Linked DNA regions of Homo sapiens. The protein of the gene in region 2 purifies or fractionates together with the protein of the main gene of each other region. This does not show direct contact. Each region holds a gene or a part of one and is shown on either strand. Other genes may lie near its edges.

Region 1 (4,402 bases), on a different chromosome or scaffold from region 2:
ACAGACAACCCACCAAGGTATCTAAAATACCACCCAAACTTCTTTCAGGTTTTCCCAAAGAAGTACTATCCAAAACAGTTAGCTTTGAAACTAAAAGAGAGTCTAATGACCCTGATCTCCAAAAACCAGAAGATGAGGCCAATAAGGGAAAGCTGAAATGAACAAAATGAATGTCTCCCAGCTGATTAGTCAGCTGCTTAGAAAGCAGGAGGCGGCCAGGTGCAGTGGCTCATACCTATAATCCCAATACTTTGGGAGGCTAAAGCAGGAGGATCACTGAAGGCCAGTAGTTCGAGACTAGCCTGGGTAACACAGTGAGGCCCCGCCCCCCAAATCTCTACGAAAAAATTTAAAAATTAGCTGAGAGAGGCTGCACACACCTGTAGTCCCAGATACTCATAAGACTGAGGTGGGAGGATTGCTTGGGCCCATGAGGTCAAGGCTGCAGTAACTTGGGCCCATGAGGTCATGACTGCACAACTGTACTCCAGCCTGGGTAACAGAGCAAGACCCTGTCTCCTTAAAAAAAAAAAAAAAGCCGGGGGGGGGGGGGTGGTGGTGGGCATGGTGGCTCATGCCTGTAATCACAGCACTTTGGGAGGCTGAGGTGGGCGGATCACTTAAGGCCAGGAGTTCAAGACCATCCTGGACAACATGGTGAAACCCTATCTTTATTAAAAATACAAAAAAATGAGCCGGGCATGGTGGTGGGTGCCTGCAATCCCAGCTACTCTGGAGGCTGAGGCACGAGAATCGCTTGAACCTAGGAGGCAGAGGTCGCAGTGAGACAAGACTGCGCCACTGCACTCCACCCTGGGTGACAGAGTGACACCCTGTCTCAAAAAAAAAATAGGAGGAGCTATGAGGATGACAACTTGCCCTGAGCAGGGATAACAACCTGACTTCCAAGGTGACAGCCAGTAGAATGTTCTCTATCACGTCAGTCCTGTGCCAGACAATGCAGATGGGGCAGCGCACTCACCGGACCCGTTCCATCTCACTAGCTGTCTTCACCACAGCAAAGGGTTCCCGTCGACTCCAGTCCCAGAAGTGGATCTCATTGGCAGTGGCAATCAGCAGGAGCTGAGCCGTAGGGTGGAAAGCCAGGGAGGCAATGGCATTGTTGCTATCTGTGAACCAGCTTTCACTGCCACCCTGTGAATGAACCAATTCCAGATATTCTCAGGTTACAAGCTACCAGCACACTGGGAAGTCAATTTCAAGAAAGGTCCATTTAAGGTAAAATGACTATGTCTAGGGACTACTTTAAATACATCCTCTGTAAAAAGATGTAGAAGATCAGCGATCTGGTAGTGCCACTAATTTATCAGATAAATACTATACAATCAGTTCAGTTCTTCAAATTAGTCACAATCTACAAGCATTAAGCATATATACACAGTTCCTATTTCTTTTTTTTTTTTTTTTTTTTGACAGGGGGTTTCATTCTGTCACCCAGGCTGGAGTGCAGTGGCACAATCTCAGCACACTGCAACCTCTGCCTCCTAGGCTCAAGCAATCCTCGCACCTCAGCCTCCCAAGTAGCTGGGACCACAGGCGCATGGCACCATGCTCAGCTAATTTTATATAATTTTGTGTATAATATTTTTGGTATAATATCCTGCCCAGGCTGGTCTCAAACTCCTGAACTCAAGCAATCCTCCTGTCTTGGTCTCCTGAAGTGCTAGGAATACAGGCGTGAGCCACCGCGCCCAGCCCACAGTTCCATGCAAAGCCTGAGAAAAACTCAAGCTCGGTGCACAACATGGTGCAAGACAACCCGCTAGCCAGTTACTAGGACAAAGAGGATCTTGCTTTGATGATCATGATCGGAGTACAGGAATATCTGTACTTAGGCAAAGATGCCCTAAGACAACAGAAATCCAACCTGAACATATCTTAGAGCCTCCTGTACTATGTCACAACGGGCTGAAGGAAGCAAAAGTAGATGTTCATCTTAGCAAGAATGGAAGACAATCTCAGGGCATGCTTAAGCTATTGCAAAAAAAAAAAAAAGGAATGGAAGACAGGGAATTAGACTTCCTATTAATTAAGTGGGCAATGTCTACAACAATATATTCAGATGTAGTCCTAAGAATCTGGCTAGGCTCTTCCAGAATTAAAAAACCAATGGTAAACAAGTCTCTGCATTTAGAATACCAAAAGAAGCCGGGCATGGTGGCTCATGCCTGTAATCCCAGCACTTTGGGAGGCCGAGGCAGGCAGACCACTTGAGGTCAGGAGTTCAAGATCAGCCTGGCCAACATAGTGAATCCCCGTCTCTACTAAAAACACAAAAATGAGCCAGGCATGATGGCACATGCCTGTAATCCCAGCTACTTGGGAGGCTGAAGCAGAAGTATCACTTGAACCTGGGAGACGGAGGTTGCAGCGAGCCAAGATCACACCACTGGGCAACAGAGCGAGACTCCGTCTCAAAAAAAAAAAATTAGAACACCAAAAGAAAAGGGTATCTTAAGGAAATACTCACGTGTAAATCCCAAATCCTAACCTCCCCATCTAGGCAGCCAGAAGCAATAAGGCCTGAGATGGTGGGATGAAAAGTGACACACCATGGAGTACGGCGGTGTCCAATCAGGGAATGAACACACTTGCCAGTCTTCACCTCCGTAATATAGATATTATGGTTCACATGGGTGGAGGCTAAGAGAGTCCTAGAAAATCAAAGAGTAGAACTGAATTCAGAAGCATGTGGAAGGGTAACCAATCTTATCAACTTTGGACGACATAGAATATTGATGCTACCTGCCAATCCCAACATGAAAGAAACTAAGCTTTGTATGTTAGGCAGTATATCTACAAACAGAAATATTCTGATCTTTAAAAGCTTTTGGCTTGTCCACACTGTCCCCAAATGACACATGCCACATTCGGAAAATATTTTTTCCCACTGGAAAAACCATCATACCACTGGTGAGCTGTATCACACAGGCAAATGATTGTTATTGAGAAACTTTCCAAGTTTTGATCCTCTCAGTTTCCTTTGCTTGTTCTCATGATTTTTCAGGTTAGCACTGCTCATCTACTTTCTTTCCCTTTCCGACACGGGGCCAAAGTGCTGTTCATACAGTACTTCAGAGAGACTTTAGGGACTGACTTGGAAGATCAAGCCAGGCCAAATATACAGAAAGCACTGTTATCACAAATCTTAAGTTATAGATAAATACTGAGTACCTGTCTGGGCTGAAGGCCAATAAGAAGGTAGAGCGTGGACTATCCGGCAGTTCTACTCTCTGGGAGACAAAAAAAAAAAAAAAGTTAAAATACATGATTTGTAGACCATGGTTCACCGTATCTCAAAAGCACATTAACCATTCTAGATTAGCATTCACAGTGTAGGCTTAAAAACTGGAGACAATGATCAAGCTACAAATTGAGAGAGATAAACCTAAATTACCTTCAGGAAAACTGTCTAGCTCTAAAGGAAAAAGATATTTCTAGCACATTAGTTCTTTCAAATTTACAAACAACTCCCTAAGTCAGATATGTCAACTCTCCCACACAAGATAAATATATCCCAACTCTCTGCTGTTAACCCATTCTAAGGTCTCATTCTACCATCACCAGCACAAATCCTATGTGAAATATAGCCATTTTCCTTACCTTGCCCTCCCATTTCATCCACCGGGTTTTATCTTCTACCAGCTCCTGCAGAAGCCGCTGAGCTCCCATGGCCCGAGCACCCCGTTCTCGCCCCCAGAGTATCCGGACAGCATTCTTTTCTGGGACAACCTTCATGGCGCTCAGTAGCCACTGTCACACCAGGCCCAGGAAATGAAGGAGCAAGTAACAGCTCCAACACACTGAAGCAGCTAAAATGAGGCCATACAGGTCCTTGTAAGTTGTCCTCATGGAAATCTTAAGGAACAAAGAATAATGTCAAAGAACGACTTCTGCAACGAGAAGCTTCTAATTGCAAATACAATTCTAGCTCAAAAGGGAAATTATACTTTTCCTATTTAATGACACTTTCTCAGAAAAGACCCTTCCTCCCAGAATTTTTCTTCCAAAAATATTTCATACTCTCATATTCTCCATAGCTCAACCTTGTAGCTAAAGAAAGGATCAGGCCAAGCACAGTGGCTCACGCCTGTAATCCCCGAACTTTGGGAAGCCAAGGAGATTGGATTGCTTGAGGTCAGGAGTTTGAGACAGCCTGGCCAACATGGTGAAACCCCGTCTCTACTAAAATACAAAAATTAGCCGGGTGTGGTGGCAGGCACCTGTAATCCCAGCTACTCATCAGACTGAAGCAGGAGAATTGCTTGAACCCAGGACGCAGAAGTTGCAGAGAGCTGAGATAGTGCCATTGCACTCCAGTGCCTGGGCGACAGAGCAAGACTCCATCTCAAAAAAAAAAAGATTATTTAGGAGTACCTTT
Region 2 (5,305 bases):
ACTGCGCCTGGCCAGGAAAGAAGTTTCTAATTACATTTTCTGATGATAGAAAGGGCATACCCAAAATGTTACTGAAAATTTAATACAAATTCCAAGATTCACCAAGGAAGTAACAAAAACCTGGCCTGCAGGTGGCCCCCTATCCCGTGGCTCCATGGCTGATGTGGCCAAATGGGCCCAGCCTGGATGGGGCTGAGGACACATTCCCCATGTGCCCGCCAACCCAGGGCCTCGCACAGTGGGTCACCCAGCTTCCCTGGTGAGGCTGGTAGGCATTCAACTAATCATAATCATTGCTTCAAAAAATCTCTCTCCTTCATGGCCAAAATCTGGCATTTCCAAGAAGAGGGAGTGGGTTAGGGTAATAGTAACCTCAACTCGATACTGCCCAGACAAGCCAGAGTGTTCCCTGATAACTAGACTACATCTCAGAATTTCTTTTCTAGACATTTACTCTTTATTTTAAAAAAGGGAAAACTGGGGATTTAGAGTATAAAGTTATACATAATTACAGCCATGGAAATGCTGCCTTTCTGGAATGCCAAAGGCTCTGCCTGGAAGCGATCAGGGCGCAGAACATGAACCAGTAAGTGCTGGGATGCCCCCGGCATGCCTCAGTAAATACCTCCACGGCGCACTCCCACAGAGGCCCCTCACATGCCCCCAGGCCTGACCGGACCCACAGCCAAGGCATCTGTCTGGCCATAGGATGAAACGAATGGTTTCTTTTACACATTTTTCAATGTCTGCACCGTGGCCCTGTGCACAGGATGAGGGCACGGGGAGGAGCTCAACATGCCCCTGGGGATGAAGCAGGAGCTTCTAAACAGCACGCAGTGGGAAGGATGGGCAGGAAAACACAGGCAGGCTCACCGTGCATGCCCGAGACTGCTGGTAGCTCCAGCCAGGCCTGCAGCCGCCCATGCAAGGGACCCAGGGCTGGGTGGGGGGCCTCCTGGGGCAGGGCACAGGCCCTGGGAATAAACCCTGAATTCTGGTGCACGTTTTCTCACAGCGTAGTCTATAAACTTGGGGGCTGAACGTGAATGACATTTTTTCAGTTTTTAATTTTTATTTTTTTGAGATAGGCTCTCTCACTCTGTTGCCCAGACTGAAGTACAGTGACACAATCATAGCTCACTGCAGCCTCAACCTGCTGGGCCCAAGTGATCCTCCCACCTCAGCTTCCTGAGTAGCTGGGACTACAAGTGTACACCACCACACCCAGCTAATTTTTAAAAATTTTTGGTAGACACTGGGTCTCACTATGTTGCCCAGGCTGGCCTTAAACTCCTGGGCTCAAGTGATCCTCCCACCTCAGCTTCCCTAAGTTGCTGGGATTATAGGAGTGAGTCACTGCGCCGGGCCTACTTTTTTGTTTTCTCTAAGTAGGACAAAAGATCACTTACATTTTGTTTCAACTGTGATATACCTCAGAGCTTTTCTTTTTGTAAGTCATGGTTCTACTTCTCTGTGGTAAATAAAGTGTAGAAGCCTCACGGGACTGAGACTTTGGGCACCTGTGGATGGCAGTGGAGGGAACACGGGCTTTGCTCCGACCAGTTCTCCCCATGCCAGGAGGGAAGCCCCAGCTGCCAGGCTGCAGGGGTGCAAGGGGGCTGTGCTCTCCTGCACAGGCAATGGGAGTAAGAGGAGAATTTTAGACCCGCTGTTTTTCCAAACAGAAGTAGGCTGAGGAGCCTGGTGTGCTGAAGTTGGAAAAACGAGCGTCCACACACTGCACACAGCAGCTGCGTGCTCCACCCTGGCACTGGCATCGCATTCCTCACCTGGAGACAGGGATGAGGGGAGGGGAGGCAAGTGAGTCTCCTCGCACCTTCTCACACTGTCGCGCCCTGCATCTGGAGAAGCATCTGGAGAAGCAACACCCCAGAAGTACAACTGGGACAGTAGTACTTAATTTTGATTTTACTTTAAGGTCCTCTTTTCCTCCTGAGGTATTTTTATGTTAGCTTTAAGAAACCTCAAGGAATTAAGTATGTGACAAATTGCACTCCCAAAGAGGTTATCTGGGTGTTTTTTTTCCTCCTGCATCACCCTGAAATGTCATTGTAGCTTTTCTAGAAAAAGGCACATCTGACAGTTAAAATCCAAATAAATGACACCCAAGGGCAGCCTTCCGCTGTTTGGAGACTCTGACACGGGCAGTAGAAGGTTCGTCTGCACAGGTCTCTTCTATGTAAAATATGTAGAAAATGAAAGTTATCCTTTTAGAGCTCAGCTGGAAAAACCAACACTCGATGCACATGTTGGCCATCCTGAGATGGGGTCCTCCCAGCAAACCTTCTACAATGTGTGCTGAAGATCAAGCACATGCCAACAGCAGCCCCTACACATACTGCACATCCACATCCACTTATCCTGCATCTACCAGGCGCCAGCAAGGGCAGGTACCTTCCACATGGCACTGCTCTCAGCAAACCCCCGCGGCAGGCTCGAACCTTGCTACCCTGCCGAGGAAGCCAGCAGTGCACTCCAACCCAAATCTGTCTGTTTCAGATCCCCCCTGCTACAATGACATTGCACAATGAGAGAAGGGGGCATCCAGCCCCACACATCGCCCTGCCCTAGAAGACGGCACCAATAGAGTGGAAGGGTCTGTGCAGAATCTCTTAGGTGCTGGATAGGCACCTCTCAGTTTGGCCAGCTGGAGGAGGTGCCGAGGCACTGGGGGCCACAGTCATCGGGATTCTTGAGACACAAGCAGGGCCAGGGTGGTGGCAACAGGCACACAGCATCCGGCCGCAGAGAGGCCCTCAGCCATGGTGAGCAGTGTTTCACAAAGGCCAATTCAGGGAAATGAAGGTCTTTCCAGGCCACAGGCTTTTTTTTCTCTCTCTTCCACTTAAAATGACAATCGCTTCTTTGAGATCATAAGAGATGCACATTCTTACCATTTCTGTCATCTACATAACTGAATAGCAGAATTTCAGTGGAGAGCTGGACAGAGCTATTTTTCTGCCACTCAACTATTCATTTCTAGGCATTCCTGAGGCATCTTCATAAGGAGAGAGCTTGATTTTCTTCTGAAGTTGAGGTAAAGAGGCACAGAGGAGCCAAGTGGGTCTCCTGCTGACTGCGGGCAGCTTGTCATTTCTCACCGCTTTAAACCAACCCATTCCCTCTTTCACTCCAGCCTCCACCAGGTGGCCACCGGGATTCACTTTGGTTCCTAGGAATCCTGACTCCGTCTTCCAGGCACTGGAGGCATGGCCCTGCCCTGCCTTGCCAGTCACACACCATCTCTTCTGAGGTATATCCCAGAAGCAACAAACTCTATGCACTGCCAAAATGAGGTATCCAGAGGAAGGTACGCTCAGCTGAGACACAGCATCCAGGGAGAAAAGCCATCCCACAGCCGAGGGAAGCACCTTATGAATTCTCCTCATTGCCCAGGGGCTGTCTCCAAGCAGGGCTGCCCAGAAGAGCTTGCTAGCCTTCCTCTCCCACATCTCTTCTATTCATGCTCTGGTAAAAAGTGATGCTCAAAATATTCAAATATTCATTGCTCAAAAATTAGTATTAATGATTTCAAATTAGAAAAAAAAAAAAAAAAAGCCTGACATTGTACCAAGCAGAGAGATGCTCTGTCTGGTTTGTGTGTGAGGCATGCGGCTAAGTCCACAACCGGGTCTCATTATTAAGTGCTTATGTAGGTGTTCACAAACACACAGTGTCCCTGACTTCTCAGAGGAGGGTGTCTCTCCTGCTTCCTCACCCTGTCCTCTCTGGTTTCATGGAGATGCAGGAGAGTGTGTCTCCTCCTCACAGTCAGCAGTTGTGGGCTGGCATCACTGGCAAGCCAGTGGCTGGTGCAAGCAGCCAGAAATTACACCCTACACACTGGAATGCTCATGGCTGGGGCCCATTCCTCACCAACTCCCTCATTAGTAGTGAGTTTTCCCCTATAAAAACTTAAAGGTTGTAGCATGTCCCCAGGAGGCATGGAATAACGTGTGGGCCCTGCTCAAACTCAATCCATATGAAGGCCACGGCTGCCCGATGTTCCCACCGCAGGGCCCATCTTCACACAAGGCAGCGAAGCGGGCACTAGGGCAGATGCCCAAGGAGGCCCTCATCCTCCCCACATACCTTGTTCTCTTGAAATATCCGCCTTGTACCAGAACTTGGAAGTGTCTTGAACAAATTTCACGATCACAAGTTTATCACCTGGACTATCTGTAAAGCAAAATTTAAAAACAGTGACCATGATGGGCACTTTTCTTCTTGCAACCTCTCATCTGCTGTGATCCCAGAAGTCCAAATCCCATGCCAAGGGCAAGCAAGCGAGCGATGTTCTAAGGAAAGGGAACCCTGCCTTTGAAATGACTGAGTTGGAGGAGGCAGTGACTGTTTTATAACACAAAACAGAACAACAGGATGCTTGGATTGAGCCTTTGCAATACATTTTAAGAATACATAGGAAGGTAGTGAGGAAAGAGAGGGTAAGGTTGGTGTTGTTCAACCCATAGACCACACTGCTTCTTATACACTTGAAATATTTCATAATGACGTTTTGGATGAATTAATTTAATTTGACAAGGAATTTGTTATTTACAAAAAGCCATGTTCCCAAGTGACATGGAAAGTAGAACCACTGCAAATGTCTGCACTTTCTACAACTGGAAGGAATCCAAGGTGGCCAAACACAGAAGCCAAGAAGAGTGAATGAAAAGCCTGAGCCAGTGCTTGGTTTTGGACGAGGAAAATGGAAAAGTACCCCAACGGCTCTGGATTTCCTCTCCAGGTGCCCAGCCCAGCACTAGAGATATGCCAGCTCAGCTGCAGGTCTGAACCCTTCCCTTCCCCAGTGAATGGACAGAGGGGCCCTTCCAACCAGCTGGAAACACACCTACCTGGCAGAGGTGAGGCCGCTTCTGAAGCCTTGGAAAAGTCGGGAAGGACATTTGGGAAGGGGATACTGATGGTGCTCCCGCTGTGCGGGCTGGAGAAGCCACTGGAGGAGGGAGAGACTGAGCCCAAAGAACGATCCCCCTCCGAGGCCCGCTTCTTCTCAGGGAGGGGTGGCTGCCCGGGCAGGGTCACACCCTGGCCCTGCAGGCCTGGACTGTGGTGGCTGCTGTGTCCAGGCGCCACCGTGAGAAAGTTGTGGGACAGGAAGCCATTGTCGGCAGCCCCTGTCGCTGTCAGCGGGATGCTGGGGGTCGGTGACGCTCCATGAGAATTGGCCAGCAAGGCCCCCAGGTCCTCCTCGGGCGGAAGGCCACTTCCCACTGGGGCGGTGCCGAAGCCCAGGAAGGCCTGGCTGCTGGGAGGCGCCAGG
Region 3 (4,402 bases), on a different chromosome or scaffold from region 2:
AAAAGCCAATTTTAAATTAATGAGGAAAATTATTTGGCTTTGATTCAAATGTTCTGATAGCCACCTCAAGTGTATTCATTAAATGAGGTGAGTATAAAAACATTTTAAAAATATTCTGAACATTATGAATCTACAAAAAACTAAATTATACACTTTAAAATGTAATTTTATGTAAAATGTAAATTGAAACATTTTATGCCTATCACTAGTTACCTTAAATTCATTTTCATTTCTTATTAATTATCAACTTTCCAACACTTTGCAATTCACCATAGCGACTGAATTTTTCTTTTCCTCTCCTATGGCCAGCCGGAAAATGCATAGACAACATACTTATAAAAAAATTAAGAACTGTAAATTTTAAAAAACTATTCAAAACACCTTAGTATATCTCTTCACATTCAAAGAAGAATCATTACCATGTAAAAGAGAATCACAGTTTCATAATACATCAATATATAAGATAACCAAAGGATCTTTTTGTCACATCCAATTATTTCAACAAAGTACAATATTACCTATTATTACCTCCCAGATATAGAAGTCTCATCATAAAGAAAAGTGCCAGCTAAGGCCAACTATAATTAAGAGAACTTACAGTGCCATGCCCATTTGCTTCAAAATAAACTCCAATGTCAAACTCTTGAGCCTTGTGGTGCAAATGTTTTACACCAGTCTTAGTGCAATAGACAGGTACCTATAACACATGCATTTAAAGAAATACAGCAATTACTCAGATGTCAAATGTTTCTTGCATACCTAGTATCCCAGAGATACAAAGGGGAACAAAATACTGGGGCCGAGTCCAGTGAGGAAGACGATTAAGCATTAAAATACAAAATGGTACGTATACAATGGAAGCATGAACACACTCTGGAAGCACGCAGCCAAGGGTAAAGCACGGTGAGAGAGATGAGGGTCTCCTTATAAGACACGAAAGATTACAAGTGGGGGCGTGACATGACCTAACTGTTTTAGAAAGCTGTTTAGCTACAGTGTGGAGAATAGCTTAGAGCAGAATTGCAAGCTTTTTCTGTAACAGGCCAGACAGTAAATATTTTAGGCTTTGCAGGCCATATGGTCTCTGTCACAATTACTCTGCCATTACAGTGCAAAAGCAGCCACAGACCATACATAAACAAATCAACATAGCTCTATTCCAATAAAACTTTGTTTGCAAATAGCAGCAAGTTCAATTAGAAGGTTAAGAAATGGAATGAGGAGGCTTCTAGGACTAATCCCAGTAAGAAATAGTGGCTGGATCAGCAATAGTGAATAGGGAAAGTCATGGATGGATGGATCTGAGAGAGCTTTAAGAATGGTTAAGGAAAGATTGATAGTAGAAAAACTGCAAAAGAAAGATCAGCATTAGATTGGATGTAGGAGACCTCAGGAATGGCAAGGGCTAAAAATATTTCATCTGGAAGACAGTGAGTTGAGAAGTAACAGTTTCTTAAACTAGGTTATTTTATCTGTAATAAATTTTTAAGACAGAAAATGAAAATCCTAAAACAATAACCCAAGTACTGTGAAATAACCCAATCCCTGTGAAAGGCAGGCAAATGGGCCCCAGATGGAATCCCTTGAATGAGCTTATTATAACCATATATTAAAATCAGGTCATAAACTAGCAGCCTCAAGATATATTTCGTTTTGCCCAGCCACTGTTTCTTTTTAAACAAATAGGAACATCACATGAAAATTCAGATTTCCTGCTTCTCTTGAAGAGTGTGACTACAGTTGACATCAGCTGGCACATACTGACCTGTTTTTAGCCCCCTGCTGCCCTCATTCACTTTACCTGTCCAAATCCTGCAGGAATCTGACTTTGTAATTCCTGCTTTCTAGAGAATGGAAAGGTAACTAAAACTAGTATAAATGCCAGAACGAGGTACAAAATGAGGTACAAAAAAGTTGGAAAACTTCTCGATAATGAGAAAGTATAGGCAAACAGACTTCCAGTTTTGTCCATGAACCCTGGTAACTCTCCGAGCAAGTAGTGTGGTGCCAAGGGTGGTCACCTGGTGGACACCGGGGAAATAATTAGAAACAGAATCTCCCACCACCCCAGAAAACCTCTCCAAAAAAAAAAGAAGGGTAAGAAACAGTTTTATTACTGAATAAGTATTAAGCCAAACTGATGTTCAATCACAGGCTAATTTGCTAAGAGATAGCAAAGATAAACGCTCACCCTTTAATATAGCCAAGCGGACACATTCCAATACAATTTGCTAAGATAAAAGATGGCTAATGACAAAAATTCTCTCCTTGACCAAACTTTAGTTAGGTTTAGGTGGGCCTGACTAGGCCTTGTCCTTAGGCATGTCTTCCAATAGCCCGATTTTAATAAGAGTCATGCTAAGTGAGCTTAGCGAGAATCCCTCATCCTGATACATGACCACTCTTGACATCTGATCTGAGTTCTCATTCTCTACCATCCCCCAGGTAATATGTGACCGCCCTGGCCTACCTTCAGCAAAAGTCCTGTTAGATCAGTTTAGCCAAAATACCACCCACTTACCCTCATGTTTCCTCTCAGTAATTTTTCATCCACTGACCACCCCCCACACACCCTGCTCCTTGGCTATAAAGCCCTACTTTTCCTTACTATATTTGGAGTTGAGCCCAATCTTTCTCCTACCACTGCAAAACTCCATCACATTAGTCCCTGTACCTATCACAACAGTCCTGAATCAAGTCTGCCTTACCATTTTAACAAGTGTCATGAATTATTTTTTCTTTAACACTAGTCCTCAAATAGGAAAACTTGAAACCACCATTTGTCACACACATAGTTTATCCTAAACTTACTTGGTAATAGGGATGGCCACCTGTGTTAACTGCCCTTCTCTAAAGGAGTAATAAAACTTTTCATACCTCTGTGACAGGTAGATAGTTACAAATTGGACGCAAACACCTAAGTTAAACTCTCCTGAGACTGGGAGATAGGTGAGCTATCTTCCTTGATGTTTATATTTGAAATTGGTGACTCTAGGCCCTTAAAGAAAAGTATTCCTGAGCTATAAAACTGGCTTATTAGGCCTTTAGAAAGACTTACATTCATTACAAAGGCACAGAGAAAGAATTCCAAGTTTTCTAAAGGAAAACTCCAAGAAAAGGAAGGAAAGAAGTTTTCCTTTATTCATCAAGGACAACTAAATTTTTTCTTATTTATTTCTCTTTACCTTTACATGAACAGCAGCTCAGCTTCATGCACTACAACATAATCACTTTTATGAGGGCAGTATCTTTCTCACAGAAACATGATCTTAATTAAGAAACTACCAGAAAACAAAAATGGTTCAATACCTTCATAACTTCTTCAAGATACCGTGTTGAACTTCCATTTGCATATGCAGTTTGTACAACACCAATATTCAAACTTTCTCCAATCTAGACAAAAACAATGATACTTAACTTGCCATCAAAAGTATGGTCTACAAAAACAAATATAATGAGAGTTCTAAAGGCTACCAAAATTATCAGCCAGTTCAGTTGTGCCTTAGTTTATGCCAAAAATGTCTGACTGAAAATTTACATGTATGCCAGGAAAAAAGCCTAAAATACATTTGAACACTATTTAAAACAATTCTATGAGAATTCCTCTTTTAAGAAGCCTGTATCTCCTGATCTTCACCTCTTTAATTTTTTAAATAAAAGTATCTGGCCAGGCACGGTGGCTCACGCCTGTAATCCCAGCACTCTGGGAGGCCAAGGTGGGTGGATCACCTGAGGTCAAAAGTTCGAGACCAGCCTGGCCAACATGGTGAAACCCCATCTCTACTAAAAGTACAAAAATTAGCCAGGTGTGGTGGCATGCATCTGTAATCCCAGCTACTTGGGAGGCTGAGGCAGAAGAATTGCTTGAGCCCAGGGAGGCAGAGGTTGCAATGAGCCGAGATCACGCCCCTGCACTCCAGCCTGGGCAACAGAGCAACACTGTCTCAAAAAAAAAAAAAAAAAAAATCTATTAAATTCTTAAAGTATGCTGTTTCCAGATTATAATAATTTCCAATTACATTGTGTACTTAAAGCTAGCCTGAGATTTATTTCTAAAATAGCAAAATGAAACAAATCTCACATTACTAAGCTTATCATAATCAGTTAATATATCAGATGATGAGATTTCCTATTAGAATTTAGGGCTTTTATGGAGTGACCACAGAACTGTCATCAAAGTTTCAATTATGATGGAAGCAAAACTTCCTAAAGCTTCAAATCACAAAACTCAGCCAGTATAAGGAGGAAAAGAGTACCTTCAGGTTCCAAAGCCAATGCCTCAAATGTTCAAATGACTGGGTATTACCACTGCTCTTTTTTTAATTTTCTGCCCACTAATGTAAAGAATTTGTCATAAATTGTGCCCTTCTGACAAATGATTGTAAAATATGGAACTATTTCA
Region 4 (4,402 bases), on a different chromosome or scaffold from region 2:
GTCACGGCGCCCGCCCGTAATCCCAGCTACTTGGGAGGCTGAGGCAGGAGAATCACTTGATTCCAGGAGGCAGAGGTTGCAGTGAGCTGAGGTTATGCCACAGCACTCCAGCCTGGGCAACAGAGAGAGTCTCCACCACACACACACACACAAAATAATAATAATAATAATAATAATAATAAATGAATATTCACTGGAAATTTCTTATGCCTTATGTTTCTAGGGAAAATAAAAGAAGTTCATAGAGTGGATCACTTTATGCATGATTTCCAGAAGTATACTTACAAATTCATGCAGAATGTGAAATGAAAACTCACAAACTTGTCTTGGTCACAAACTTGTATTGGCTGGGTCTGTCACATCTGTGGTGGAGAGCAAATTCTACCCATTTTTTAATATCTGTGAACCACAATCTTGTAACACAATTTATCCAAAGATAATACCTTATTTTCTCTTAAATATTCTATAGCTTAGTGATTTATTAAAATGTGCATGTGTGTGTGTCTATATCTTAGTAATGAAGTAGTAGCATTTTTTAAGGATTGAAATAAATCTCCATTCATTGTCTTGTTATTACATAAGCCATTGATATCTTTAGAAGTAAAAACAATTGTCTTTGTAAGTAACAATACATTCTTTCAAAACTTTAATCAATTTTAAGAGCCTGTCACATTTTTTTGCAGGTAATAATGACTGACTCAAATATATATATTTGTGACAGTTAACTACTAAGTTCTCTCATGCTGTCTCTCTCCATATGTAGAGAATATAGCCTTTTAAAAGTCAACTATATAAGGTCTCTATGTATGGAGAGAGAGAGTACAAGAGAACTAAGTAGTTAACTATTAAAAATAACTTGCAATGAATTAAGGTAAACTAACAACTTTTTAATTTGGGAAGGTGAATTTTGAAGGGTAACTGTGTCTCATGCATACAAGCTAAACTATTTAGAATTTATCATGTCACATTTCACTTATTTTGAAAACTACTTTAAATATGTACTATTATATAACATGATGAGACACTGTAATGCCTTAGAAAGTGCAGCAATTGTGAAACCATGCTATTACTGGTTGCTTATATCTATCAAAATATTTTTTGAAAATGTTCTATTTTTCCAGGAATCAATACTTACCTGACATACTGCATCATATTTTCTCATAAATACTCCAATGTTTTTTTCATTTCAGATTATTTCTAACAATTATCTATATACCTAAATACATATATTGATTTTATATACATTTTTATGTTTGAAAGCATATCATATATATTGAAATTTATCAAACTACAGTATATAAATTTCTAGGTAATTACTTGCATTTCAAATCTTCCCAAAGAGCTGAAATTCTATAACACTATATTTATACATTTTTGCAAACTACTTATTAAATAAGACTTTCTCTTCATCAAATCATACACAAATATAAAGTCTATCACGCAAAAGTTCCATATTCCCTGGTTCTTCTTAAACAGTAATATAAATAGGCATATAAAATTACAAAAATTAGGATATGTAAGCTTTGCAATGATTTGTTTTCATGGCGTGATCATTTCATTATAGCCTAATGAATTTTGTCACAGTGTCTACAACTAGCAAAAGCAAGTTAAACAAACACACTTGCACAACCAGTAAAGAGGTAAAAAAACACCCTAGACCGTGCAGAAGATGTACAAGACCTCATTTTGGATATTTGATCCACATTACATACAAGCAATATTGTATCAGTACTGCTTTTGGCAAAATTTATCGGTAGTGCTTTATGTTGATGGATGACTTGTGTGCTTTTGGTTTTATTTATTTTTTTGGCCTTCAGCATGCTATTTGTTATTTTTTTCTGTAGGTGACCCCTGAAAGTACGTATGTAAACTGCAGCATAGAATGCAGTCCTAGAATATCTATGGCAGCAAAAGATGAGAGAGAAAAAGAGACAGAGAGAGACAGAGAGAGACAGAGACGGGGAGGAGTGGCGTTTATCTCCCATTATAATCAGTGGTAAAATTTCCTTAAATACATTTTGGCATTCATTTTCCTTTTGAAAACCTTGCTGTGGGGTCTACTTGCCCCTTTCAGAGTACTGCGCAACCTTCGCAAGAGACCATTTAGCACAAGTTTCCACCTTGGAGTAGATCTTCCTACCTTTCCAGTCTTAATTCTGTGTGAAATGGCTGCAAATCGATGGTTGAGCTCTGAGATTTGGGGCTCTACTAATTTCCTGCAGTGGTCACCGCGGTTTGCCATCAAGTTTGCTGCTTGGTCACGTGTAGAGTCCACCTTTGGGCGTATGTCATTCAGTTCTGCCTTTAAACGCTATATTCCATGAGCAAGAGATAGGACTTGAAGTTAGTAATTAATGAAGGTCAAGATAGAAAAAGAGAGCCAAACAGAGCGAGTGAGCAAGTGAGCGAGAAGAGTGAGAAAGAGAGAGAGAGAAAGTAAGAAAATGAGAGCAAGCACATGCAGAAAATACAAAGGGAGATAAAACCACAACTTCCATAAAACAGGACTAAAATGAAAATGCGTGTGATTTCAGAAAAATAGATCACCGTCCTTAAGTTTGATGCATGTCTATTTAAAATGTTTATTTAGTCCGAGGAAGGACAGGGATGTTTTCCCAACTATGTTGTTGCAACTATCATAATATATTCTATTTAGTCTTATTTTATTATATCGTTACTGAATTTAATAGTTGTGGAATGAACTAAGTATGTGCTCAGGAGGTCAGGTAGCTGAAGAACACTTTTCTATTCCTTCCTAGCACTTTCAAGTTCCTCTTTATTACATTGAGTGTCATAAGAAAAAAAGTGATTTTCTAACACATACGAATTTTCTGTCACATACAGAGGTACTGAGGAATGTTCTTCCTGACCTGCCGGGTCACAGAGGTTGAAGTTAAATAACTCAGACCCTATTATTCAAAAAGCCTTGAAGGAAATTCACCATAAGATGACATCTCTGACTATACATCAAGGGATAATGAAGAGCACAATACAGATCCACATCAAAATAAGCTTCAGACAATGGCATAAATGTGTTTTGGGGATAGCCTGGAATGAATTTATAGTTTTTCATTAAAGGTATATCGTAATCTGTGGAAAATATCAGAGGCATAAAAATAAATTGCATAGAAAGAAACATAATTTTTGAGTTTTCTTTAAATAGTAAACAACTAATCAATAAATTTATCAAACATTGCAGCAAAACAAAATAAAAAATGTTTATTGAAAAGAGAGCTGTTAAAATTCAACTCTACCTATTTAATTGGGAAAAGAGACATCATCAAATAGAAACAATGTAGTGTCTATAAGGTATATTTGCGTATTACACCTCTCATACCCTTTTATCGGAATCATTTTTTAAAGAAAAGATTAAGTTCCCCTTGAAAAAGAAGACAGGGCATCCTAACAGTCAGTTTTGAGACTAAAAGAAAGAACCCAAAGCCTAGTTTACATGTAGTTAAAAATGAAAACCTCAGCTTTACATAAGCCCAACATTAAGACTAATTACCAAGATTTGGATATGGCATAGGCAAAAAAATCAGCTGACTGGATTTCAGGTGTTCATTCAGATGGGCTAAATGAATGATAGTGTCAGATTGTTCTTTGTGTTAGACACAAGAATGTAGTACCACCATTGACAAAGGCAGAAATTTGCAATATGATTTCAAAATAAATCTTGGAATATCTTTCTGAACGGAGTTTACATTGGGTATAATTAACTGAGTGATGGATTTGAACAGAAAGTCAGATTACAGAACTCTTCAAAATCATTCATTTCCATTCAAAGGGGGAAGGAAGGAAAAAGGGAAAGATAAAGGAAGGAAGAAAGGATTGTTTTACTCTTATTAAGACGTCCTTAGTATCTTTTAGGACAAAGATGATTGAAGTAACTGGTGTACAATTTGGACATTACTTTTCATATTTTATTTGCTACCTTAAGCACGTCTTCTTTTTGCTGGGGTTTCTTTTTCTCTGATTCATCCAAAAGTGTGTCAGCCTGAATGATCCACTTTGTGATGTGGTCCACATTCTGGTCAAAAGTTTCCATGTGTTTCTGGTATTCCTTAATTGTACAGAGACATACCATGGCATTATTGGTTAGACAATATTCTTAAAGAATTTTTCCTATGTTCTAAAATGTTTAAAAGACAACAATAAAGTTTCATTGAGATTAGTTTTAAGTGGTATTTTCATATAGAATATTGCGTAAATATAAAGAAAAATATATTAAAATATTGTTATAGATATTGAATTAAGAGCCAGCATATACGTAGAATTGAGAAATTTTCAAACACAGAATTGTTACTGGTCACTTATGTATCTTTTTCTCGTGACAGAGAAGGGTGTAAAAGCTTCTAGCCTTTTCTCTTACCAACAAAAGATTTAACCACTCTTCTGCTCG

The links.
Region 1: the proteins of TNS3 (region 2) and AMBRA1 purify together in Homo sapiens (affinity purification with mass spectrometry, with the first as the bait; one large-scale study listed by BioGRID). This does not show direct contact.
Region 3: the proteins of TNS3 (region 2) and PGM3 purify together in Homo sapiens (affinity purification with mass spectrometry, with the first as the bait; one large-scale study listed by BioGRID). This does not show direct contact.
Region 4: the proteins of TNS3 (region 2) and DMD purify together in Homo sapiens (affinity purification with mass spectrometry; one large-scale study listed by BioGRID and IntAct). This does not show direct contact.

The regions. Positions count from the first base shown.
Region 1 is NC_000011.10:46,544,622-46,549,023, forward strand, and holds part of AMBRA1 (activating molecule in BECN1-regulated autophagy protein 1), read right to left. Parts: intron 3,880-4,402; 5' UTR 3,760-3,879; coding exon 3,625-3,759; intron 3,255-3,624; coding exon 3,196-3,254; intron 2,676-3,195; coding exon 2,492-2,675; intron 1,156-2,491; coding exon 983-1,155; intron 1-982. UniProt on the Homo sapiens protein: Substrate-recognition component of a DCX (DDB1-CUL4-X-box) E3 ubiquitin-protein ligase complex involved in cell cycle control and autophagy.
Region 2 is NC_000007.14:47,298,073-47,303,377, forward strand, and holds part of TNS3 (tensin-3), read right to left. Parts: coding exon 4,878-5,305; intron 4,201-4,877; coding exon 4,114-4,200; intron 1-4,113. UniProt on the Homo sapiens protein: May act as a protein phosphatase and/or a lipid phosphatase. Involved in the dissociation of the integrin-tensin-actin complex. EGF activates TNS4 and down-regulates TNS3 which results in capping the tail of ITGB1.
Region 3 is NC_000006.12:83,175,364-83,179,765, forward strand, and holds part of PGM3 (phosphoacetylglucosamine mutase), read right to left. Parts: intron 3,394-4,402; coding exon 3,310-3,393; intron 698-3,309; coding exon 599-697; intron 1-598. UniProt on the Homo sapiens protein: Catalyzes the conversion of GlcNAc-6-P into GlcNAc-1-P during the synthesis of uridine diphosphate/UDP-GlcNAc, a sugar nucleotide critical to multiple glycosylation pathways including protein N- and O-glycosylation.
Region 4 is NC_000023.11:32,360,648-32,365,049, forward strand, and holds part of DMD (dystrophin), read right to left. Parts: coding exon 4,373-4,402; intron 4,064-4,372; coding exon 3,935-4,063; intron 2,312-3,934; coding exon 2,141-2,311; intron 1-2,140. UniProt on the Homo sapiens protein: Anchors the extracellular matrix to the cytoskeleton via F-actin. Ligand for dystroglycan.